2 separate regions of the Homo sapiens genome follow, and region 1 is linked to region 2. Evidence: fine-mapped QTL for protein levels in blood plasma. Region 2 holds a variant in brackets. A gene starts in the other region. All regions are shown on their forward strands.

Region 1 (12,200 bases), not on the chromosome of region 2:
AATAATATACCAGTGAGAATTAAGTTCTCATGTGCACATATTATACAGATGTATATTAATATAATTAAGTTCTCATGTGCACATATTATACAGATGCATATTATTATAATTAAGTTCTCATGTGCATATAGTATACAGATATATACATATTATACAGATGTATGCAGTAAATGGCTCCCTACTGTACTGAACAAGAAATACTAAGTTCTTGTGCTTATAGAAGTACAAAACATTATTGTACAAAGGAATATCTAGCTGACCCTCAAGTAGCCTAGTGCTAACATTTAAGCAGACTTTAGCATCTTAAAGTAGTTACAAGGTCCCTTAATTTTCACTATTTTATAGTTACCACTATACACTTGAGCACTTGATTTCTTAAAAACTGATTATTACAATAACAAAAAATTAATCCAGACCCTTAATGAACATGTTCAGAGGTATAAAAATGGATAAGCGACATTTACTACACTTGAGGAACTCACAGTCTAGGTGGGAAAACAAGCCTAGAAACAAACAATTAAAACAACCACCACAACAACTTTGAACTACAGCATTAACATGATACAGTCAATGTACTGTGATGACATTTGAGAACTCAGCCTGGGAGGGTAAGTGGAGTGTGGGTAGATTTCCTGGAGAAACTGGCAACAGAGCTGACCCTTAAAGAATAATTAAGAAGATGAATTGGAGTGACTAGAGAAGTTTTTGAGATTCTAGATTACTGGTTAAATATAATTTGAATAATTAATAACCACCTACTCTGGACCCAATATTGTTTTAACTAGTATTAGGACAAAAATAACCATAGGTTATAGTCCTTGCCTATAGGACAACTTACAATCTATTGAAGAGGTAAGGTGTATACCTCGAATAAAATGCTGACAGTAGACAGTAAAGTGCAGAATGCAATAGATAATGCATTCATTTTTTCATTTAACACATATTTATTGCATATCTGTTATAAATATGTTATATACTCTTCTGGGAACTGAGGTTATGACATTGGACAAACACACATGGTCACTGGCCTCATGGAGGTCACATTCTAATGGATATTAATAGGGATTAATATATATGTAATATATGGGTTTAAAAAAATCGTCATCATCAATGTGTTTTGGGTAATAGCATTTCAAATCTTAACTCTGAAGAAAAGAATACAATATGCAAATAGGGGACATCCTTAACCAAAAAATGTTGTCAATAGAAAAACAGCTAAATAGTCCAGTAAAATCTTTGTATTTCTTAAAATATTCTGGATGGCAATTCATAACTATATTTTCCATTAATAGTCATCAATTTTAGCTAGTGTAAAATATGTATAGCAAATAGACTATTGTTTTCTGTTACAAGGCATTATTGACTCAATTTATTTAAACTTTTAACAAAAAAAGACATCATTTGGCAAAAGCAAAACAGATCTTCTAAGGATTCCCCAAATCTTAGAACATTATACATATTTAAATCTAAATATTTTAAATGTACATCTTTGTGAACTTTTTGAGATGTGGGAGACAGAAAACAATAGTTCACAAAGTACAGGATGTGGGCTAAATGTTTCACTGTCATAGAGAGGTAGGGAGAGATCATAAGAAAGTGACAAAGACACAGAGGCCAGCTGTATTTATCATTACTTATCTAAGAGCTGGTCACTCTCAGGTATTTACTATGACTTGCTAATAATTCCAAAAAGAGCTGTATTACAGAAGAGATCAAACCAGAAACACACCCAGGTGTTTCACAAAATAAAACTATGATGTTAGGCATATTATTCACACCACCCTTCCTGGTCTGAGATGTCACAATAATGCTATCAACCTACCTCATTTTAATCGACAAGTGATTATGGAAAGTTGATTTCTTTGAATTAAATCCATCACATCAAGAAAGCAGTGCCATAACAGTTCCAGTATTTATGGTGACCCACAAATCATTTGCCCCCTTGCATGCCTTGCTTCTCATCCTGTTCAGTTGCAAGACCAGAAAAGTTGAGGAAGGAGGTTTCCCTTCATGGAAGGTGATGGATTAACATAATTATCATATAGCTTCATTTAGAGTTGATAACACATCTATTCTGCCTCAAAACCTTTCCTGATAGCGATGCCATGAGCTGCATAATAATCACTATGCTTTGATTAATTATTTTGCCAAATAAATGGATAAATTAATTTCACCTACATACACTGATAGCCTCAGTTTCTGCAGGGTGTTGCTTCTTCCTATGGCAACTACTTGGAATCAAAATAGAAGTAATACAAATTGCAGTACTGAGCATACCAAATGGTTACAGTAAAAAGATTTCCATTTCAATTATCAGAATAAAAATATCACATGAAGTTTAGAACTTGGAGTGAAGAAAACTCCTAATTAAGGGAAACTTATGAAAGCCTTTAGCAAGTTCTTTGCTGAATGCATTTTTTGGTTTCTTGATCCTCCAACCAATCACATTGACAATGACAAAAGATATGCAAATTTAAACTGACAATAGTCAAGCCACATTGCTCTGACTCATACCAATAGGGACGTTTTCAGCATATATTCAGCTTGATTTTTACACTTGAAAGGGTGAATGTAACCAAAGAACATTTTAATAGTTATTCTTGGCTATAATCTGAAAGCTATCCCATAATCATTGACCAAGAACAATGCAAACAAGAATCAAATTTATTTTGCAAAATAAATTAACATATGAAACACGTGCATGATTTAAGCCCAGCAGAATTATGTGTTTACCCTGTCACTGCTGAATAATTGCATAGCAACAAGAAATATGCATTACTATGTTTGAATCACTATTGTGATTATACGCTTTAAGCAAACAAAACATTACGTTTTTGGTAGAATAGATCATTCAGGATAACTTGGGACTAAATTTTCCTTCCCGTTCCCTCAAAGAATCCAGACTAATATGTAATGATTGAATTCTCACTAAAAACTATACGGATGGTGTACTGAAGAATAATAACAAGCTGTTCAACCAAAATCATTTGTTTACAATGGAAATAAATTTTACCAAAGAAAAATACAAACATCCTATTATAAACTACTACTGAAAGTAATGCATAAAATTTCAGCTACAATTGTAAAAAACCTGAGAGTTCTGTTTGCTTTTTATTCTTCTGCCTACCTACTGATTGCCTATTACAGTCCTATAGTCTGTAATAGAAAGATTACAATATCAGCTTTGGAAACTGTAGAACTACTAAGTTCCAGTTAATGTGTCAAATAAAATAACAGTGATCTTAGTTCAGTCCCTAGTGGACAAAAGTAGAATAACTATTACTTGGCATGATTCAGCAGGCAATGACCTAAGTGAGTGTGACCACACAGGAACAAAATAGAGCATTTGTCCTTTCCCTATCTTTTATCTTTTTAAAGGGATTGCCCGGTTAACAGACTAACTTAAAGAAGCCTGATTGCATACCTATCTACATGTACCAAGTGAATCCATTAACAAGGGAGAGAAGCTTTTCACAAATTGAGACATTGCCTCCCTTCTAGTAGCATAGTCAGTTGAATATACTTATTCTCGGCTGCCTATTATTAAACAGAGTGCAAAGACAGAATGAATTGCAGAAGTGTGTTCATAATTTAATAGGCTTATCTTCAACAAAAACTTAAATGGTTTGTAGATAAATAACTGGATAAACTATTCGATTTGATTTCTATAAATTGAGATTACATTCATACTCAACATTAACATTCATCAAATAACATGGATACTTAAACTCGCCAGGTACTGTCTCTAACTACAATGCCCTGAGAAGGGAGGTATTTCAGGAATATAGTAGACTACATGCTGCGTTCAGCCCATATCTGCAGGTGCATGTCTTCCTCAACAGCCAGCATGCCCTCATCGTGAGCGAGCAACCCCTTTCCGACAGTTAACATTACAATGTATCTTTTTAATTTTTTTTCTCAAGGACAGAAGAAAAAAATATTTAACAGAAATCAGTCTACTATTCTACCACTTGCTGAAACTAACAGTTCCCTTTACATAAATATACAATTTCTCCAACCAAATATCATATTTTATATTTACTCTCACTTCATGTTAATTTTTATAAAGGTTAAAAAAACAAATACTTTGTGATGATTTGCCACCCCAGCGGCACAAAATTTTCTGGTGCAAAATCGATTTGATCTTATTAATTAATATTGTCATTATTATTTATTTTTCACCAACTTGCTTAAGAGGTACATACTTTCTTTCTTAAGGTAGTGTTTTGACAGAGAGAACCTTAATGCTGAACTTTAGAAAAGAGAAACCAAAAATGTCATAAAATTTGCCAGGGCTAGACACACAAACGGGGTGCCCCCACACATTCATAGGTTTGGGCAAGCCCCCAAACCTTGGCTTACCCAGGAAGCCAAACCCAGACAGCCGTCTTGCAATTGCAAACACTGCCCCCCTGGAGCAAAAGGTAAATACACAAATGCTCCCCTAAGGAACTTTAAGTTAGCTGCAGTGCAAGAAAGGAAAAAGGTCCGTGCTATTAGAAACTGAAAGCAATCACTTACTTTTTGCAGCCACTGAGTATAATTTTCCATCACATGTTCCAGATGTTGAAGTTTCTGGGAAGAGAAATCCGGTTCCACGTGTGGAGCATCTCTCTGCAGAGCGTTTGTGTTGTACTGGTCTGTCGTACTCTCACGACAGTTGCCATCGTGTTCTGGAAGAATGAAAGTGTAGGCACATTGCCCATGTTGAATCCGGTTATATCTTCTCCCACTGTTTTCTGGACTTCGGCGCTGATTGCTGCACCCTATGTGAGTCAGAATGGCAGCGAGGAAAGCAAAGGAAAGGAAAACTGTCATTGTACTGCCAGCACACTCCTTCCGTGCCTCTCGCAAAACTTGCTCCTTTCTTCTGACCTCTAAAACTAGTTCTTTATTTCAGGTAAAACTGCTTGTTTGTTTGACTCTTTCCCCCTCAAAGAAAGCGTTTGAAGAAGAATCATAGAAAACTAGCCATTTGTTAGCTTTGTTCTAAAATTTTAAAATTTTTTATTTCACTGCAATGATGTTTTTCTTCGTTAAAACTTGAGATATTTATTGCATAGTAGCTGAGATTTATTGTTTCCTCTCTGTGTGACCGTTCAGCATGGAGCCTGCCTGAGTCAGCTGCGTGTACATATTCTAGACCCTTTCCTCTACCCTATCTGCTGCAGATCTGCTATTTTCTCCCAGACCTCAGTGAGTTTTATTAAGGTTGCACATCCAAGCCAAGCTGGAAGCAGGCAGCCTTTCACAAGATGACTTGACAGGAATGCATGAGTGTGCCCCTATACTAAGGATTGCTGATGGCTTAGGGCGGCGGGATCGTCTTACAAATTGGCTAGATGCGCATGACCTCGATCATGTATGGCCCTCCCGCCCCTTTCCACAGACAATTGCCTTGAGCCTTTAGCAGATTCATGGCAAATCAATAAATAGAGCAGTCCACCTTAATACACTTTTGGTGTGCATGCTGACCTACTAAAATATAGCAAACTAGCAGTATGTTTTTAAAGTTACTATTTAGTCGAGGGACCCTAAGAAGAAAATTGGCATAATGTCCAATGGAATTATTTTTGATAGAGAATGATAAACCCATATCATTATTAAATGTCTTTAAAAAACATGTATTCTTGACTCTGAGGAAAAATATGTTAAAAAACAGTTTTTACAGATGGTATTCTTTCATTGTATTCACTTAGACTTTTAGGAGTTGAAGAAAATAATCAGAGAGGATCAAATTAGCAAGAAAATTAGCATCATTTGTTGCTCAAAGCAATATGTTGCACAAAGCAATATAGTATGTGCATATTAAAGAGGGTTATCTAAGTACCTTTTGGTATAGGGTTCTTAAATGAAACTGGTGTCCTGATCAGAATGCAACCCTTCATGTTCTGTGTATATAAATTGAGCAACTTCCCTACAAAAACAATGTGGCTACAATTTAAAGCAGTGGCTTGAGAATTATTAATTCCTGTGGTATATCCTAATCCTGTATTTTACAAGGATCTCTTTGGTGGCTATGGCTGTCTTTAACACTGGTGTGGAAGTTCCACATAAAAACCTCCTGTGGCTGCACAGACATACTATGTGAGAACAAGCATATATCAGGTGTGCTAACAGCCAGCAATGGGCTGTACAGGAGACATCTCTGTGCTTCTGTGAAGGAAGAAAGAAAAATTATCAGAAGATGATTTCCCACAGGCAGCGTATAAACATTTGAACAAAGGGACCCATAAACATAAACAGGCAATAATTGTAGAATTTAGGGAACGGCTTTGAGATCTTTACTAGATGCAGAAAACCTGAATTATGAGTTGGGATTTTCATTAGGAACTGGGAGGGCTTTTAGACAACTGCAGTCATGGTGTGAAAACAGAAGCCACAGCTGTCATCTCCCATGTCTTGGAAGGAGAACAGGGCAGTGGGTGAAGGTCCGTAGTGGTTAGAGATGGGCATTTAGGGAGAAGTTAGAGGAGAGGTCAAAACAAATTCCAGAACAAATGCGATTTACTTGGGGAAAGAAACCTTGCCGAGATTCATCAGTCCTTTCCACACCAAATAACAAATTTCTGATTGGACAGATATGGAAGCAAGTTATGCCAAACACAGCAATAAAATATTTGAACCACTTTTGCAGCCTCTTGAACTTTTGCGTGTCTCCTCATTGAGTCATGTATCACTCCTGTGCAACAATAATAATGGCATGCATTAAGACCTTACTGTTTTCCAGGCGAAGCACTCCTTACACACTATCTCACTTAATCATTCCAACAAACCTAAGATCACGGATATCATCCGTTTAACCCCATTTTATCAATGGGAAGACTGAGTCACAGAAAGGCTAACAGGATGTAATTCACAGAGCTGGCAAGTGATGGCGCCAGTATGTGAACTCAGGCAAACTGACTCAGAGCCTGTTTCAAACCACCAGGCCAGCCTGCTTTTGGAAATCTCTGCAAGGAATGAAAGCAATTTCAAAAGCGCTCCAGCTGCATTGATTTACAGTCCTAAACCAGGAGAAGTGACGTACCTAGAAGAAAAAGCACTGTTAAAACCAGAGTATCTCTCCAAAGTGATTCAGGCCTTTTCCAGCACACGCGTGCGCGCGCACACGCACACACGCACACACGCACACACACAGTGACAGGTAACCTATGCACAGCCACAAAGATGAAGTGCACTGGCAAAATGCAGGTTGTCTAAGAACACTTTCCAATAATGCTTGATTTGAAAATTATCCATGGAAAGAAGAGAGTCCAAACCCGACACCTAGAAGTGTTTTGCGAAGAACTAAATACAGCAGAAAATTGGCAGAAGACTAATGGATGAGTGGTGAGGTTTCTATTAAAGTGCTCCTGTGTTTTTAAATAGCCGAGACTGTTAAAAATCTGTTCCTCCACGTGTGTGTCTGTGTACGTCTCTGTGTCCTTATCCATGTGAATTTTCGCAATTAGAATAAATGAAAAGCAGGAATGCACAATTTCCTGAGGGAAAAGTAGACACTAAGAAAGAGAAGCCTGAAATGCAAATAAAAAAGGAGGGGTCGAGGGACAAAGAGACAGAGAAAAATGTAGAGACTGATTTATTTCTTTTGCAGAAAAACAAAATCAACCTTAAACCATAACACTGGAAGTACTAGTGTCATTCTGAAAAAAAATGTCTGAAGATGAATTTTAAGTAATTAGAAAACACAAGGATGTGCAGAATTGACTCCGGTGTTTTTGGAACTCCAGTTAAGGAGACTGTAGGTACATTTAAGGATCCTGACACACTAAAGATAATATGTCTTTGGGATCATGCATCTAAGCAACAGCAACACTGTTGTGTGTTGCTGATTATTCAGAAATGGGGCAGAATTCAGGATGCATTAAAATTTAGGGAGTAGGGCTGGGTTCAGTGGCTCATGCCTGTAATCCCAGCACTTTGGGAGGCCGAAGTGGGAGGATCGTTGGAGACTAGGATTTTGAGTACAGCCTGGGCAGCATAGGGTGACCCTCCCTGTCTCTACCCAAGATAAAATAAAATAAAAATTAGCCAGGTGTGGTGGCACGCCCAGGACCTGTGGTCCCAGCTACTCAGGAAGCTGAGGTGAGAGAATCGCTTGAGTCCAGGGGGTTGAGGCTGCAGTGAGCCATGATTGCCACTGCACTCCAGCCTGGATGACAGAGTGAGACCCTTTCTAAATAATAATAATAATAATAAGCGAGTAATAAGAACAAGCCAATTAAAATTCATCTACCACACCTCCATGAAGGATAAAATATTTATAAAGAACTAAACAATTCTGTTCAATTGAATTCTGTGGTAGCTTGAACCCAAAAGCTTTGTGTTTTATTAGAGATCTGGAATAAGGAAGTGTAGGCTTTAAGGTTTTGATCTCATATTTACAAAGAGTCCTAGTAAATGTCCCACTTAGTCTGAAATTTCCAAAGGGACCAAGAGCCATTTATACCAGAACTTAATGTGCCTAAATCTATCCTAAGAAACAGTCTTTGATAATTCTTTGGTAAAGCTTTCTTAATTTCTCCAGGTCCAATAAATGCTCTCTGTGTTAAATTTCAATAACCTTCTCCTCATGTCTCCAAAACTGCACTGCTCACGTTGCTTGCTAATTGTTGCCTTTTTTTTTATCTGTCTCTTGCTTTTGCTGTGAGCTGCTAAAGTGATCTTCTCTTTGTCATCATTGATTCCTCAACATTCACTATGCACTTTGTCTGAAGGAATGAAAGAATAAGCAAATAAATGAATGAGCTGATTAATGACTCAGTTGATGCAACTTCCTGACTCTCTATCTGGTTACTACATGACTGGCCACATTCATTGCATTTGTTGGGTGAGTTTGCCTAGAATCCCTAGGCATGAAGAACTGAGGATAAAGCCAAACTTATTCTAAAGAATGAGTTAGACGCAAGAGCAAAGTACAATAATAATTCATAGTATTTTTTAACACTTAACAAATAATTTTCTCATCTAATGTTTACAGAACCCCCATAATTATGTAATATTATATATTATTATTCCCATTTTGCTGATGAGAAATGTGGAGCCATAGAGATTAATCGCCCAGGATCTATGATCTCTTAGGAGGCAGAACAGGAATTTGATCCTCAATCCATCTAACTGTGAGGCTCACATTCATTTCCCACTGAGCTATATTGTTTATGACAATACTTCAGTATTGAGAAAATATTTCTTATAATTTAGGGAACAAGAACAACATGGTGACTTCCCCCTTCAGAGGTCCCTTTCCTCTGAAACCCAGGGCTTTCACAGATTCATGTTATGATCTTCCAAAACAGGGATAATATTAAATCAGGATGCACCAGTATGGTAAGATATGCTTACCAACAGCCAATCTGATTAATCGGATTATACTTTAGAAATATTCTAAATGGTTGGTCCTATGCCATGTCATCTGTTAGATATCTTGATCATCACTCCTGCTCTACAATAAAATCAAAATATATGAAAAAAAATAGTATTTATTTCTCAAAAATACCACCAGGCAATGAGATTCAAGGAAATAGTCCTCTGGTATTTATACAACCACTTATAGGGGAAAAAGGGGTGGGAAAGTATTCTCCTACTTTGTGTTCTGAACACAATGTGATTCACCACACCAAGGGTGCCATATTCTGTGACTCTGCTCAGGCACTTTTAGGGATCAAGACTATCATCAGGCCTATAGAAGTGGCAGCTCTATCTAAAAGGAGGGAGGGCACTTGGCTGTAGCTCCTGGAAGCAGAGCCAAGACACCTTCACTCAACTATGTAGGCAGCAAAGGTATCCACAACAGTTGGAAATATCACAGGGGACAAAACCAAAAACAGAAGAAGATGGAGGATATCATCTGGTAACTGAAGGCACTTCATGAGTACATGCAAAATATCCATTTAGAACTCCCAGAATAACTGGGAGGATGCTACAAAAAGCTGGAAACACTGCAGCAAGTGGGATGAGGACTGGAGGCATATAGATAAGTGAGGAAAATAAAAATTATCATATAAATATTCCTCTGTCTTTTGATGACAGAAATTTCTGGTAATTGTTAGGTATCTTGTTTGTTAAGTAGGTTTAATTTAATTTTATTTTTGAGACAGGGTCTCGCTTTGTCACCCAGGCTGGAGTGCGGTGGCATGATCTCAGCTCACTGTAGCCTCTGCCTCTGAGGCTCAAGTGATCCTTCCACCTCAGCCTCCCTAGTAGCTGGGACTACAGGCATGCACCATCGTACCCGGCTAATTTTTGTATTATTTTGTAGAGATGGAGTTTCACCATGTTCCCCAGGCTGGTCTCGAATTCCTGGACTCAAGCAAACCACCAGCCTCGGCCTCCCCAACTGCTGGGATTACAGGCGTAAGCCACCAGGCTCAGCCTGTTAAGTTGGTTTTAAACTATAGATATACAAGGTGGAAACCGCTGAGACTGAATTAATTTGCTCTACCTAAGAAAGGAGAGAAGGGATTAAGAGACTCAGGAAAAGATCTAGAAGTGGAGGACTGGAGCTAGAGAGGTTTAGAGATTCTGTGTCAGGCAGAGCTGCTGAAAGAGAGAGGAGGCTTGTGGCTGTGTGGCCATGAGAGACTTGGGAAGATATATCAAGTAAGGAGATTTGGAGTGAAATAATGTTTCCAGTGAGATCAAATTTGTCTTATCTGTTTCAGTAAAATATATACTTTGGGGCAAATGACTTCTTAAAGGTGAATAAGAGGAATTGAAGAATTGGTCTTTGCTTCAAGCATGGGAACAGCTAACATATGGATTACACAGACTATTAATGTGAATGCAATTGAAGTCATTTGTTTCAGGTTTGTTTTTCACACTAGATCAGAGTCCCAAATGCTAGAACTGTGTCTGTCTTATTGATCTGTCTGTCCCCTTTTCCTGGCACAGAGGATGAACTTTATAAATATCCAGCTGACTGTCTGATTCATTCACCTTAAATCTCAATGATGAGATGTGAAGACACAGAGCCAGTCCCTTACAAGTTTTCAGGTGCTAGACTTGCATAGGCCCTAGAGATCTCACTTTGTGGTGAGTCATAGAAGGCACCCAGAGTCCATAGATTCCAAAAGTCAATCCCAGCAGTGGTAGTGGAATAATACCTAATACTTCCAGCCACCTATGAACATTGCCACGGTTGAAAAACCATTCAAGAAACATCTCAGAAATACCTCTCAATGTGAGATTAGTTGTTAATTCTACAATGAAGGTAACTTCTACAAATACGCAAGCCAGAAAAGAAAACAAACAGCTGAGGACTGTACCATGCAGAAATACAGATGCCAACATTCCCCTCATACGAGAATGAAGAAGGATTTCCATTGGAGACCCAGTGAGATTTTATTATAAAAAGCATATAAACTACTTTGCATTTACTAACTGCCTCCTTCTTTCTTCTCTTTTTCCCTACAGAAGTCTTGATTCCTAGATGAGAGCAGAATGCAAAGGCCTCTCTGTCTCAACTTTTCCAACTTCAGAAAGCACATGTATTTTACATGTTCTAAGAAACTCTCAAAAAAGAACAAGTAATTTCAAGAAATGCCTGGAATTACCATTTCATGGGTTATGGTAACCCAGTGGGACTTGGATAGTTCTTGTAACCAGTTCTTGTAGCCAAAGTACCCTCCGCTGAGAGTAACTCAATGATGTAGGACTTTCTGTTCAGAGGAAAAACTATGTTGTGGTCACAGAGTTGTTACAACCTCCACTCATGAGTTAAAAAAAGAATCATTCACAAGCATTGTAAACTCAGATTTTAAAAAATACGAGGGAAATAAGATCCTTAATGTTTTCTAAAATTGCTTGTTTTTCCTCTTTTAGTCTTATTTTTATACTCTCTCTTAATCTAATCTTACTTCTGATGTAATACTGTCTTATCTCTCTTTCCTCCTGCCAGATTGGATGAACTGTTTCATAGTGGTTAAGGTGGGAGGATACAGACTGCTTTGTTTTTGTTTTGTTTCTTAATTTCTTGTCTATGCTAGTCCATGTTAGATGATATTAGACAAGACATTTAATTTTCCTAAGCTCAGCTTCCTTATCTGTAAAATGAAGACAGTAATAACAGTACCAATTTTATAAGAACGTTGTGAAGATTAAATAAGATAGTGGATATAAAGTACTGAGCACAGTGTCCAGACCATATCCAAGTGCTCTCAATGTTAGTTCTTCTTTCTAAATGTGAGTTCTTTTTTCTG
Region 2 (12,200 bases):
CGTGGCCTATTTTGACTTTGGCACCTAGGACTGGCTCTAATGCCACGACAATCCCTGGAGTTTCCTGGAGCCTACTGGACTTTGGAGAGCGTCCAAATCATGACCGTGGAAGCTTTATTCATTCCATCTAAAAACTAGAAACTGTGTTCTCCCCTTCCTTCCTCCCTCTTGCCTTTTCTTTCTTTTGAGCAATAAATATCCTCTTTAAAATTTAATATAGCACAAAGTCATCATAAGTATAAAACATTGTGTACAATCTTTCTTACAAATGGCCAAATGCAGTGACCAACTTCATCCATCTCAATTGTTGTCTCTTGCATTATAGTCTATTCTGGTGTCTACATTCGGCCCACTATAATCTGTACTCCTGAAGCCTCCCCAAAGAAATGCTCCTAGATTAGTGAATATTTGAATAAATATTAGAATTTGGATTCAGAAGACATGAACATTAAACTGGTTTTGCCTCTGGTAGCTTAAAGTTGATAGACTCAAATACTACATATATATTATATATATGTAGTATTATATATTATATTATATAATATATAAATATATTTTATATATTTTATATATATTATATATATATATATATATATATATATATATAAAACATTGTAAAAACAGGGTGAAAGGATCAGTGACAGTGAGAAATCTAACAGCTCCAATGTCTTAAAGTCACAAGGACAGTCTCCCAAATAAACAGCCATCTTATTTAGCAGAATTCTGCTTCATTATAAATTTTCGCTAAAAGAACAGTTTTCCTATGACACGGAAGAAAGCTGTTATGGGTGTTTTTCTGGGTTTCTTGGACTTGGGAAGTTTTTGAGAGCTGTCTATGTACAGTTTCATAAAAGTGCACTGGGACAGTGTTAGAGCTGTGCAGAACTTGGAATCAGAGCTATTTTTGATTGATGTGCTGGGCAGAACTTCTCCTTGGCCTTGGTTTCCTAGGCCAAATGCTCACTCGTCTAAACTCACCTGGCTTATATACGTGTCTAAGAATAAGCTTTCATTTTTCTCCAAAGTTCAGTAGCCAGGAGAGTGGGTGTTGATCTATAAATTACTTTAGGCCTGCATAATTCCTAACAATGAAACACACTCATGTCCAAATAGACAATCGTTTACATGAAGTAACTTGGAGTTCTCAAGCTTTGAAATGCTTGATCTCTGGAACAAGCAGATGCCATAATGGGAAGTACATAGAAACCTCCTGTTTATTTTCCTTTTTAAGAGAAATTACACTTTAAACTTTCAAATCAGAGAGAAATAAGAGTGCTGCCCAAATGTACTGCATAGCAACAAGATGGAAGATTATCATTTGCTTGAATATTGTTTCACAACAGTAAAAATAGGTCTCTAGGCCATCATTGGAGGGAAGATCATAAGCCCATCAGTAGAGCCATCGCCACAGGCATATCCTTCCAAATGCCAGGTATCTCCTTCCCTATGTTCTTCTAGTTTCTCTTACTTCAAACCTTTCTCCTTTCCAATACGGGGAATGTTTATGAAATAGCTGGGTACTGCTTTGAGTTTTAACCATGATTTAACGTAGTAAATAATGGGATGGTAGTTTTGCAAATGCCAGACTCAAAATATAACCCTAACATTTATAAATAGACTGCTTGCCAATAGCAGACATTAGAGGAACCCACTCTCTATAGACCCAATGGCGTCAACCATCTCTTCTACACAGGTGATGCTCAAATATGCAGCTCAAATCCTCAAACTCTCTGCTGAATTGCAGTGCTATACTTTCAACAGTTTGCTACCTGTTTTCACTTGATCGTTCAGAAAAATTATCCACTGGTGGGGAGGGGTACTAGTCTCCAAAAATCTACCAACTCTTCTCTTTTTCAAGAATCATAGTTTCTGTTGAAAGAGCTTGCTTACCCAAGCCCGAGCCTCTGCTTCTCTCCCTTAGCCTCCACCTAGCAACAGTGACACTTCTACCCAACTCCTTCCACGGTGTGTGTGATGTTTTTCCTGATTGTTAAAGATGAGGTTCTTTATTCTCTTCTTTGAATTCCTATAGCATTTCCTATTTGCCTGTCTCATTTTAGTTGTTTTCCAAGTATGTTTTCTTTCCTCGCAAGTAGACTGGAAGCTCACGGAAAGCAGGGACTGTAGACTCCTGGTGCCCACAGGGTCAGTTTAGGGCCTTACCATTCATTGGTAGACACAAAATCAGAGGTTGACCCGTGGGACTAATCCAGCAAGTGTTTGATGTGCAATACAGAGTATTCTAAAAATATTTTTAGCAACTAAAAGTCAAAAAATGTCACAAGTCTAGATTAGGGTTATTCTCAGGAAAAATGAAAAAGAGTGGACGTTCTAGTACTACTGGACCCTCACCCCCATGGCAAATGTTCTGCACAGACGCCACCCCTTATGGGCTGGGCACCCACTTTCCAGCGTGCCTCGCTCCCGCTGCTCCCTGCTGCCTCACACCCTGCCATGGCCGCCACTGCCATCACCTCTCCAGGCTGTGTGAGCACCTGTGACGAGACCCCTTAGCCTGGAACCAGTGCTGAACAACTGAACAGTGGCAACTAGGATAGCCAGACACAAAACATGAAGCTCATTTTCTACCTAATAAATTCTTTTTATGAAATAAAAGTTTACATATAGTGCATGAACAAATGATAAATAATATGACACTAGTCTGCTCTATGTAGCATAATAAGTAAGTTGTAGGCAGACAGCTTGGTGGGAAAAACCACTGGAAAGACTCTTCTGGGTCCATTCATAGCTGGATGGTGCACACCTATTTTGGGAGGACACAGAAGCGTCTAATGAAGGAAAAGTTCTCCATGCTCTCTCATTCTCTATAAAAGGTTTAAAGTGATCATGTTTTATAAAACATACATATATTTTTAAAAACATTATATCATGGGAAATATCAAACATATGCAAATATTTAATACTCCCCCCCATACTCAACATCCAGAAAAAACAATTATTAACTCACGGCTTGGTTTATTTCTACTCAAATCAAAGATGATTTTGGAGTTAACTGCAGACATCATATAATATCATTCAAAATAATTTCAACATATAGACTCAGCCTAAGGATTTAAAATAGATATCCATGACATCATTATCACACCGCAAAATAACTCCTTAACATGTCAAATATCTAGTCCATGTTCGCATTTTTTATAGTATATTTGAATTACGATCTAAGTAAGCTCCATACATTGCAACTGGTTACACCTCTTGCCTTTGTTTTTTTGGTTGTTTGTTTGTTTCATCTTCCACTAGTTGCTTCATTTTTAACCTTGGAATTTTTTCTGTTGAAAAAAACAGGTTATTTGCCCTGTAGAGTTTCCCCAGGGTAGATTTTGCTAACTGCATTAATGTCATGCTGTTCAACAAGTTTCTCTGTCTTCTGTCCTTCCTGTAAACTGTTAGAGCTAGAGCAGGGGTCTGCAAGCTACGGCCCATGGGCCAGATCTGGCCACGCTTTTTTCTTTGTTTATGGCTGCATCTGTGCTATGATAGGGAGCTGAGCAGAGGTGCCCGGCTGCAAGAGAGACGGTATAGCCTGCAAAGCCAAAAACAGTTATTATGTGGCCCTCTACGTGAAAAGCCTGCTGACCCCAGCTGTAGGGACTGATCAGATTCAAGTCAATTTTCTCTTTTTGTAAGAATATTTTGTAGAGGTGCCGTAGAGGGTGGTGAAATCAGTAGACGGTAGCTGACTGTCTCTTTTTGTGGTGTTAGCAAGCTACTTATGATGACCGCCTAAGTGCACTGTTTTATTAAGAGTTACCAAATGTGGGTGCTGTTATAATTCTAACTTTCCTCCCTCACTTATTAATTAGAATATTTATATAAAAAGAAGTTTTCCATAATCAACTACTTGGTTGCCCTGAGGTTTATTTTGTGTTACAAGGGCAGGACAAATTCTTCATTCATTTCCCATATCCAACAGTTTTCAAAATAATTCAAAATAGGTTGATTGACCAGAGGGTTCTATTTTCTGTATCACTATAAACTCGTGTTTTTCAACATACTTTAAGGGTCTCGATCCACTGCAAATTTATTCTTATTGGTGCTCAAAATGAGCCTCTTCACACTCGTTCTTAAACCTTCTGATACAACCCTACAGTCTTGTTAGCCTCCTTGCTTTCCGGTTTGACTAGATGTTTAGGCTCATTTTATACATCTTCTGTTCCAGATGGAATCAGCCACTTCTCCAGGGAGCTCTGGTTCCTTTTAGTGAGAAACAGTAGCACTGAGCACCCTTATCTAATAAACCCTAAATGTTTTAAACTGTGGAAATGCTGAGCAACAGTGATAAGGAAAATCCAAAGTCCATTTACACCACTCTCTGGAATATATCCAAATACTGAAATTCAAATTATGAGAGCCAGACTGGTGACTGTTTCACACCGATGGCTCAAACATCACTGGAAAATCAAATTATGAAAGACCAGCTGCTGACACTGAACGGGTTTGCCTCCCATGGCCATCTAGACCGAGGGAGGCTCGCTGGATGATGACAAGATAAAGGAGTCTGCTGGGCATTAAAAGCTGGGCTGGGAGAATCAAAGTGGATTGCCCTCGTGTGACAGCAGCGAGCCTCCTGAATCAAGCCCAGCCTAAAAATGGAATCCTAACAGTGCAGATGCCAGCGACAAACAACCGACACACAGCACGGCAAGGTGAGTCCCCGGATTTATCTCAGCCTCTCCCCTCCCCGCCCCTCAGTGAAAGCTGACACCTTCTCAGGCACTGGGAAAGTCTCGCCATCCTTCTAGTCTCTGTGTTGCTAGGATCCTGGTTCTTGGAACCTAAGGCCCCTTATTAATCTACAGGGGCTACAGCAGGTAGAGAAAAACAGCAGGTATGTTTTGTCCGAATCATGACATCTCTCAACAGCTTTTCCTGCCAGGGCTTCCCAAAGAAATAAATGTACAGGCCGGGCACGGTGGCTCAAGCCCGTAACCCCAGCACTTTGGAAGGCCGAGGTGGGCAGAGTGCTTGAGGCCAGGAGTTCGAAACCAGCCTGGCCAACATGGCTTAACCCTGTCTCTATTAGAAATACAAAAATCAGCTGGGTGTGGTAGCACATGCCTATAATCCCAGCTACTCCAGAGGCTGAGGTGTGGGAATCGCTTGAACCCAGGAGGTGGAGGCTGCAGTGAGCCGAGATTGTGCTACTGCACTCCAGCCCAGGTGACAGAGTGAGACTCTGTCTCAAAAAAAAAACAACAACAAAACAAATGTACAGGCAAGGTTTGTGGCTGCCAAACTGAGACTTCTGAATGGCCTTAAGTAAAATCGTGCTGTCCAGCATTCAGACCAAACATTTCTCATCAGTACTTTGCCAACACTCAACGGTGTTTGGCAAGAGGCATTCTAGAAACTCTTCAGGAGGTGAGCCATGGAGATTAAGGCTGTCTCTGTAAGATGACAGTAATTGTTAATGTACAAGTAATCGGGGTTAAGCCTCACATATGGTCTCTGTCTCTCAAATCTGTATAAGCATTACTGAAATAATGTCCACCAAGACCTGTATTCATTTTCCAAACATCTACCACATTTTCTTATGATACCAAATCAGGTGAACAAGCAAACTAAAGTACATCTTGGTTATCCTTGGGAAGTGTACTAAGTACTAGCAAAATGACTCAGCATCTTTAAAATTTAGAGAACAAACA[G/A]GAAATGCCAACTTATCAAGGGGACAGCAGCTTGGTAGTTTTAAAATGTGTTTTTCAGGTTAGTGGAGAAAGACTTAGAGACATCTGAATTTTTTCTTAAATTTTTGTCTGCCTTCAAAGTGTATGCTCATTCTATGACACTAATTAATTTGGCCAAAAAGGAACCTAAAAATGTTTAGGAAATACCTTTTCAGCCGCTGAAAAGTATGGCAGCAACATCCAAATGGTCCCTTCAATGAAAAGACACATATTTTATTATAAAGTACACTCTGACATCAAGTGCCTTTTATCCATATATTATCCATTCTGAAATCTCTTTGGGTTGATGGGAAAAGGCTAGGGGGAAGGAGGGGATTAGAGCTTTGTTAGCAGTCTGTCTTTTAAAATTCAAGATTACAGGATATTCATTCTATTTTCCTCTAAGTTTCCGGGAAAATTCACCTAAAGTTCAAATTCCAATCCTACTACCCATTAACCAAGAGATCCAAGGCAAGTCACAATCTTCATCCGTCTTAGCTTTGTCCTCTGCCATATTAGAAATCATATCTCAAGGGTGGCCATGGAAATTCAATAGGTGCAAACTGAAAGACATAGTAACCAGCCTAATACCTGGCTCAGAGCAAGTGTTCAGTAAATGCTGGCTCTCTTCTTCTGGTCCTCTTCAATGCTCAAGACCTGAAATACTCTGATTTGTATTTCAGCAACCATTTAGAAAGTCTCAAGGATCAAGCTAAGAAAACAGTCAAACACTGCTACCTTGATAAAGCCTTGTCTGTATCTTTATAACTTCCTTAGACTATTTAAGACTCAGAAATAAATTAAGACAATGCTGGTGCGTTTTGCCGTCTCTGTAAGAGAACTGAGGGGTCCATTACTGTGGGAATGGAGGGGGAGGGGTGAGTATGTCCCAGAAAACCTTTAATAGTGCTGAGATATGTTTTTCGGTCTGCTGACTCAGATCATTAAATCTGGTTTACCTATGTATCAAGTCCTATAGACTTTTCTTTTTGATATGTCTTTAAGACGTAATGGTCCAAATGGCTGATTTCCTAATCCAGCAACCAAGAGGTGACCCAAGACATTATAGTGACATTGACCAATGGTTCTCAATCTTTAAAAACAAGGAAGTACCTTTTTAATTTCTCTCTTCAGCAAGAGACATGGAAGTACCTTTTTTAGACATAAAAAATATTACACATAGTTCATGACCATGTTTTTAGTATTGGTAAAAATACATAAAATACAACCATGAATTCTTAAACATGTCAATAAAATCCAAATTCTTTTTATCAGTACCTAGATACATTTTAAGAAATCATATTTTGAGATATTATTTATCAATCTATAATCAAAACTGGGCCATGAACATGATTTCTCTGATCCTTTAGAATAACCCTGATATGCCTATGGGCCTCCAATTCAGAGACGAGAAACTAACACTCTCTGGATTCTTGCCAATTAAAAAATGAGTGTCAAGTGTTAGAAATGTAAATTGATTTTTTAAAAATCTTTTTTAAAGGCAATCCCTAGTACGCATAAATAATCTTAATAATGTATCTATCTATTGGAACAGTAATACCCCTTCTATCAATCAATCCTAATGTGATAATAAAAAAGATTCAGGTCCAAAAATGTTTACTATTATTTTCAGTAGCAAAAGTATTGCAATATTCTCTGCAATAAATAATTGCAATAGCAATTATAATTGCAAATTAAATCTCCAATGGAGGGGACACTGTGGGTGACCTTTTACCAGCTTTGTGCACTTATCTCCTAGTTTTTATCTGCTTTGTTGCTAATGGTTTATACCTGTTACCTCGGTCAATTACTAGTGGGAGTTGAAGGCCACTTTCTTGGTTGGCCCTAAGTGGTTGAGAGTTCACAAACACCACTCCCTCCCTGAGGACTAACAGCCATTGACTACTGGTCTGCTTGTTAACTGACTCTCCAGAGCTCCCCATGAGCTCTGAGTGTGGGACTTCACCTGGTATTTCTTGCTTGGTTTCTTCCCTTTCTAATTCCCACTTCTCCCCTTCCCTTACTATTTCAACTGGGAGCACTTCCTAATGAATCACTTGCACTTTATGCTTGGCTCAGGGATTGCTTCTGGGAGAACATAACCTAAAATGTCCAACAATAAGGAACAGTTAATGACATCCATCCAACACAATATCCTTTGGCTGTTAAGAACCTATCTCTGAAGAAAACTTAAAGACATGGTAATACATTCTGGATATATCTTAACTGGAAAAAAGTATGGTATAATTAACTATGTAAAAATTATACACAGGCACAAATTAGCCAGGTGTGGTGGCGGGTGCTTGTAGTGCCAGCTACTTGGGAGGCTGAGGCAGGAGAATGGCGTGAACCCAGGAGGCAGAGCTTGCAGTGAGCCGAGATCCCACCACTGCACTCCAGTCTGGGCGACAGAGCGAGACTCCATCCCAAAAAAAAAAAAAAAATTATACACAGGCACAAAAAAAGACTAACAGGACAGATATTAAAATATCTATATAGTTATTTCTGATGGTGGGAATATGAATATTTATTATTCTGTATACCGTTATGTAGCCTTCAAAATTTCTGTAATGAAATCACCACTTATAACAAGCATCCCTTTTCCTTTTATCAGGAACTGAGACTCTGGAATAGCTGAAATGTGTTCTAAAGGGGAGCAGAGAAGGTTATGGAGCACAACAGTGGCTAAACCAAAGGATCATAAAACTTTAATAAAAATGGTATTTACTGGAAAAGGAGAAAGAGTTGAGAAATAATAAAGTGGAATCTTTTTATATACACTAAGATGAATGTTACACCCCATTACAACCCACAGACCATTTCATGTTGAGTTTTTTCAGTAAATGGTGGTGTTATTTTGGTGAACATGATTTGACCTATGTATGTGGCCAAATCTACATATTAGATATTTAATGGTGGGGATTATGACTTAATTTTTTTATTCTCTGTGTTTAGCATAGTACCTGGTATATAGTAGTAACTCAATATATGTTGGGTTTCCTTGCCTTTCTCCCCGGCTCACTGAAATAGGAACGTGGGAGCTGCTGAGTTCCTGCCTGATAAAACCCCATATCCTCCATGAACACTGCCAAAGTGGTGCTCTCACAGCCTAGAAAAGGCATCTCTGTTTATCCATAAGGCATGGACTCTCCTTGTGAGAAAAAGAGGGCCTCCCAGCAGACAGGACAGGCCCTCCTTCAGGTGGCCTTTCTGGGGTGACTTGCACAGGGCGGTTTGGAGACCTAATGCAGTGTTCACTTGCACTTTCCCTCTAGCTGGGTCCTGCTCCCTTTTCACGAGGAAGAGGAGGGAAGCAGGGGTTTGGGCTCCGTTTTGCTTAGCTAAGCAGGTAACTGGATAAAATTGGTTTAGAAAGCTCCCAGGGAGTAAGAACAGTGGTTGTAAGAATAATTTAGATTATATATGAATGTTTTAGGTTTTTCTCTCAGTGGCTGGCTGTTCTGTTTCCTGAACCTGAATGATAGAGCTGGCTTTGGCTTAGGAAGAAAAAGGCAGCCTGTAAGGAGTGACCAGGCGGTAGGTGGGGAGGACTGGTAATGTCATCCACGGTTCCCTACTGCTGCTTTGTGGGTTTCAGGAGGTGCACCGTGTCAGGAGGCTGGGGCTCCTCTATTCCTGCAGAGGAACAGCTGCCCAGTCACTCAGCCTGGGGTTCACACCTTCCGCAGTGCTTGTTGCAGGAGGTTCAGTGTAGTGTGTGCATGTCCACCTCCAGCTGCCAAACTTCTCAACAGGATGTAGATGAACCTGGGCTGACAAATTGGATAAGGTGGGCTGGCAGGCCAAAGCTTCAATTACCAGTACCACATCCTTTCCCTTCTAGGATACACAAAAGTAACTGGCCTCATTCCTTCCTCTCCCAAATAGAGAAGCCTTGGCTTGAAAATTCCAGGGAGTGGCCATGCGAGGTGGCTCATGCCTGTAATCCTAGCCCTTTGGGAAGCCAAGGTGGGTAGGTCACTTGAGGTCAGGAGATCGAGACCATCCTGGCTAACACAGTGAAACCCCATCTCTACTAAAAATACAAAAATTAGCCAGGCATGGTGGCGCACACCTGTTATCCCAGCTGCTCAAGAGGCTGAGGCAGGGGAATCACTAGAACCGAGGAGGCAGAGGTTGAAGTGAGCCAAGATCATGCCACTGCACTCCAGCCTGAGCAACAATCAAGACACTGTCTCAAAAAAAAAGAAAAAGAAAAAAAGAAAAATTCCAGGGAGAACCACTAGGTAAATTGGTATCAATGCAGTCATTGCATTGATGAGAAACAGTCTAGGACTTCAGACGGAGACTCTGATTCTAAACTAAGGAAAGTCAGAGGGAAAGTCAGAGGGATCATTGTGTGGCGCCTGGGGCGAGAGTGGGAATGTGTGTTCTCTTGTGCCCTAGAGCAGGCTTTCTTTATCTCGGCACTACTGACATAACTCTTCAGTGTGGGGGCTGTCTTGGGTACTGCATAAGGAAACCCATATCCACCTGAATACAGAAGACTCTAGATTCTCCTGGGTCTCAAGTGCCCAACAAAACCCACTTTGTTCCTTTGAAGTCAGGGTAGCATTTCCAAGGCTGCCGTGTAAACAAGTGTCCCCTATTAAGTTGGTTTATCCCTTAATTTATCCTACAAATATTAATGAAGCACCACAGTGCCAGGCCTGGCGCTGGGATGCTAGAGAGAGAATAGGCATGAAAAGGGGCTTGGTACCTGCCCTCCCACCTCTCAGAGTCTCAAGGCATGGTTCTCCACCTGGGTGACTCTGTCGCTCAGGGAGCATTTGGCACTATCTGAAGACATTTTTTTTGGTTTTCACCACTAGGTGGGGGCCAGGGAGGGTGGTGCCATGGCATCTGGTAGGTGGGGGCCAGGGAGGGTGGTGCCGTGGCATCTGCTAGGTGGGGGGAGGCCAGGGGTGCTGCTGAGCAGCACCCACAATGCACAAGACAGCCGCCTGCAACAAAGAATTATCCAGCGAAATGTCAGTAGTGCCAAGGTTGGGGAAGCCTGGTCTAGAGGGGAAACAGACCTTAATCAAATCGTCTTATTACTTGATATTTACTTTCATTTTCACGTATTTACTTTACAAATGCTCTGACATCGAGGAGAGTGTGTAAGAATGGAAGCAGAGGCACACCTGGGCCAGGGTGAGAGGCAGTGGCCAGGGAAGTGCTCCTGGGAAGGGCCACATGGGCAGACATTGGAGGATGGACTGGAAGTGACTGGACAAAGGGGCGGAGAGATGGAAGCAAGGAAGAGTATTCCAGACAGAAGCTCTCAAGTGCAAACAAACCTTGTGTTGGGAGGTACCATGGATTATTCTGGAAATATTTTTCCTTTCATACCATCATCACCTTACAGCCTTTGCAAGACAAGGGCAACTCTGTGTCCATGACTCCAACAAATAGGCAGCTCATCAAGACATACTGCAGAACCCAACCGGACAGAAACTGGAAGAATCATTCACACTCCAGTGTCTATCTTGTTCCATGGCTCTCTTTCTCACCACCCGGCACTGCGCATGACAACAGGCAGGAATCAAAACCCTAAGTTGACATTAAAAGCCTGAGTTTCATAAAACGAAAAACTGATAAACTGAAAAACTGATCAATTGGACCTCATCAAAATGAAAAGTTTTACTCTGCAAAAGATCCTGCAAAGATGATGAAGAGACTAGGAGAAAATATTCTCCAATCACGTATCTGTCAAGGGACTAGTATCTAGACTACACAGAAAACTCTTAAACCCCAACTGTAAAAAAAAATCGGATTAGGAAATAAAAGACATGGATAGATATTCCATTAAAGAGGATGTATAAATGGTAAATACGTCCATTAAAAGATGTTCAACATCATTAGCCACTGGGGAAATCCAAATTTTTAAAACCACAATGAGATGTCACTATATGTCCAGATGAATGGCTAATACTAGTGACAACACCAATTGCTGGTGAGGATGCAGAGAAACTGGATCACTCACACATTGCTGGTGGGAATATAAAATGGCACAGCCGCTCTAGAAAACAGTTTGGTAGGTCAGGTGCAGTGGCTCACGCCTGTAATCCCAGCACTTTGGGAGGCCGAGACAGGCGGATCACCTGAGCCCGAGGTCATGAGTTCAAGACCAGCCTCACTAACATGGTGAAACCCTGTCTCTACTAAAAATATAAAAATTAGTCAGTCGTCGCGGCAGGTGCCTATAATCCCAGCTACTCGGGAGGCTGAAGCAGGAGAATCGCTTGAACCCGGGAGATGGAGGTTGCAGTGAGCCGAGGTTGTGCTATTGCACTCCAGCCTGGGCGACAAGAGCGAAAGTCCGTCTCAAAAAAAAAAAAAAAATAGTTTGGTAGTTTCTGTTTATTATTTATTTTTTTTTAATGTAAGTTTGGCCGTTTCTTACAAAACTAAACATGCACTTAACTGTATAATCCAGCAATGCTGGACATTTATTAGAGAGAAATGAAAATCATTTCACATAAAAACCTGTATACCAATGTTCACAGCAAC

Alleles and levels. Alleles are on the strand shown, and positions count from the first base shown. The strength of an association depends on the size of the effect and on how common the allele is.
As copies of G replace A in region 2, the plasma level of the protein whose gene starts at base 5,178 in region 1 goes up (weak association).

The links. PIP is the posterior inclusion probability: the model's chance that the variant is causal. The UK Biobank Pharma Proteomics Project read protein levels with antibody pairs (Olink). The fine-mapping took linkage between variants from a reference panel, not from the people measured, so its PIPs are less certain.
Region 1: ANGPT1 starts here. The variant in region 2 is fine-mapped to the plasma level of the ANGPT1 protein (UK Biobank, PIP 0.91).

Annotation. Positions count from the first base shown.
Region 1 is chr8:107,492,741-107,504,940 of GRCh38, forward strand. ANGPT1 (angiopoietin 1) reads right to left here and starts at 5,178. Exons shown (of 9, transcript NM_001146.5): 1 at 4,522-5,178. The coding sequence starts at 4,818. RefSeq lists a silencer at 8,677-8,877.
Region 2 is chr2:224,004,491-224,016,690 of GRCh38, forward strand. The region is part of intron 1 of SERPINE2 (serpin family E member 2); the gene reads right to left. LOC124907990 (a long non-coding RNA gene) reads left to right here and starts at 4,387. Exons shown (of 2, transcript XR_007088102.1): 1 at 4,387-4,667. RefSeq lists enhancers at 4,808-6,007, 4,932-5,507, 10,598-11,097. The variant G/A (reference allele first, on the strand shown) is at 5,667.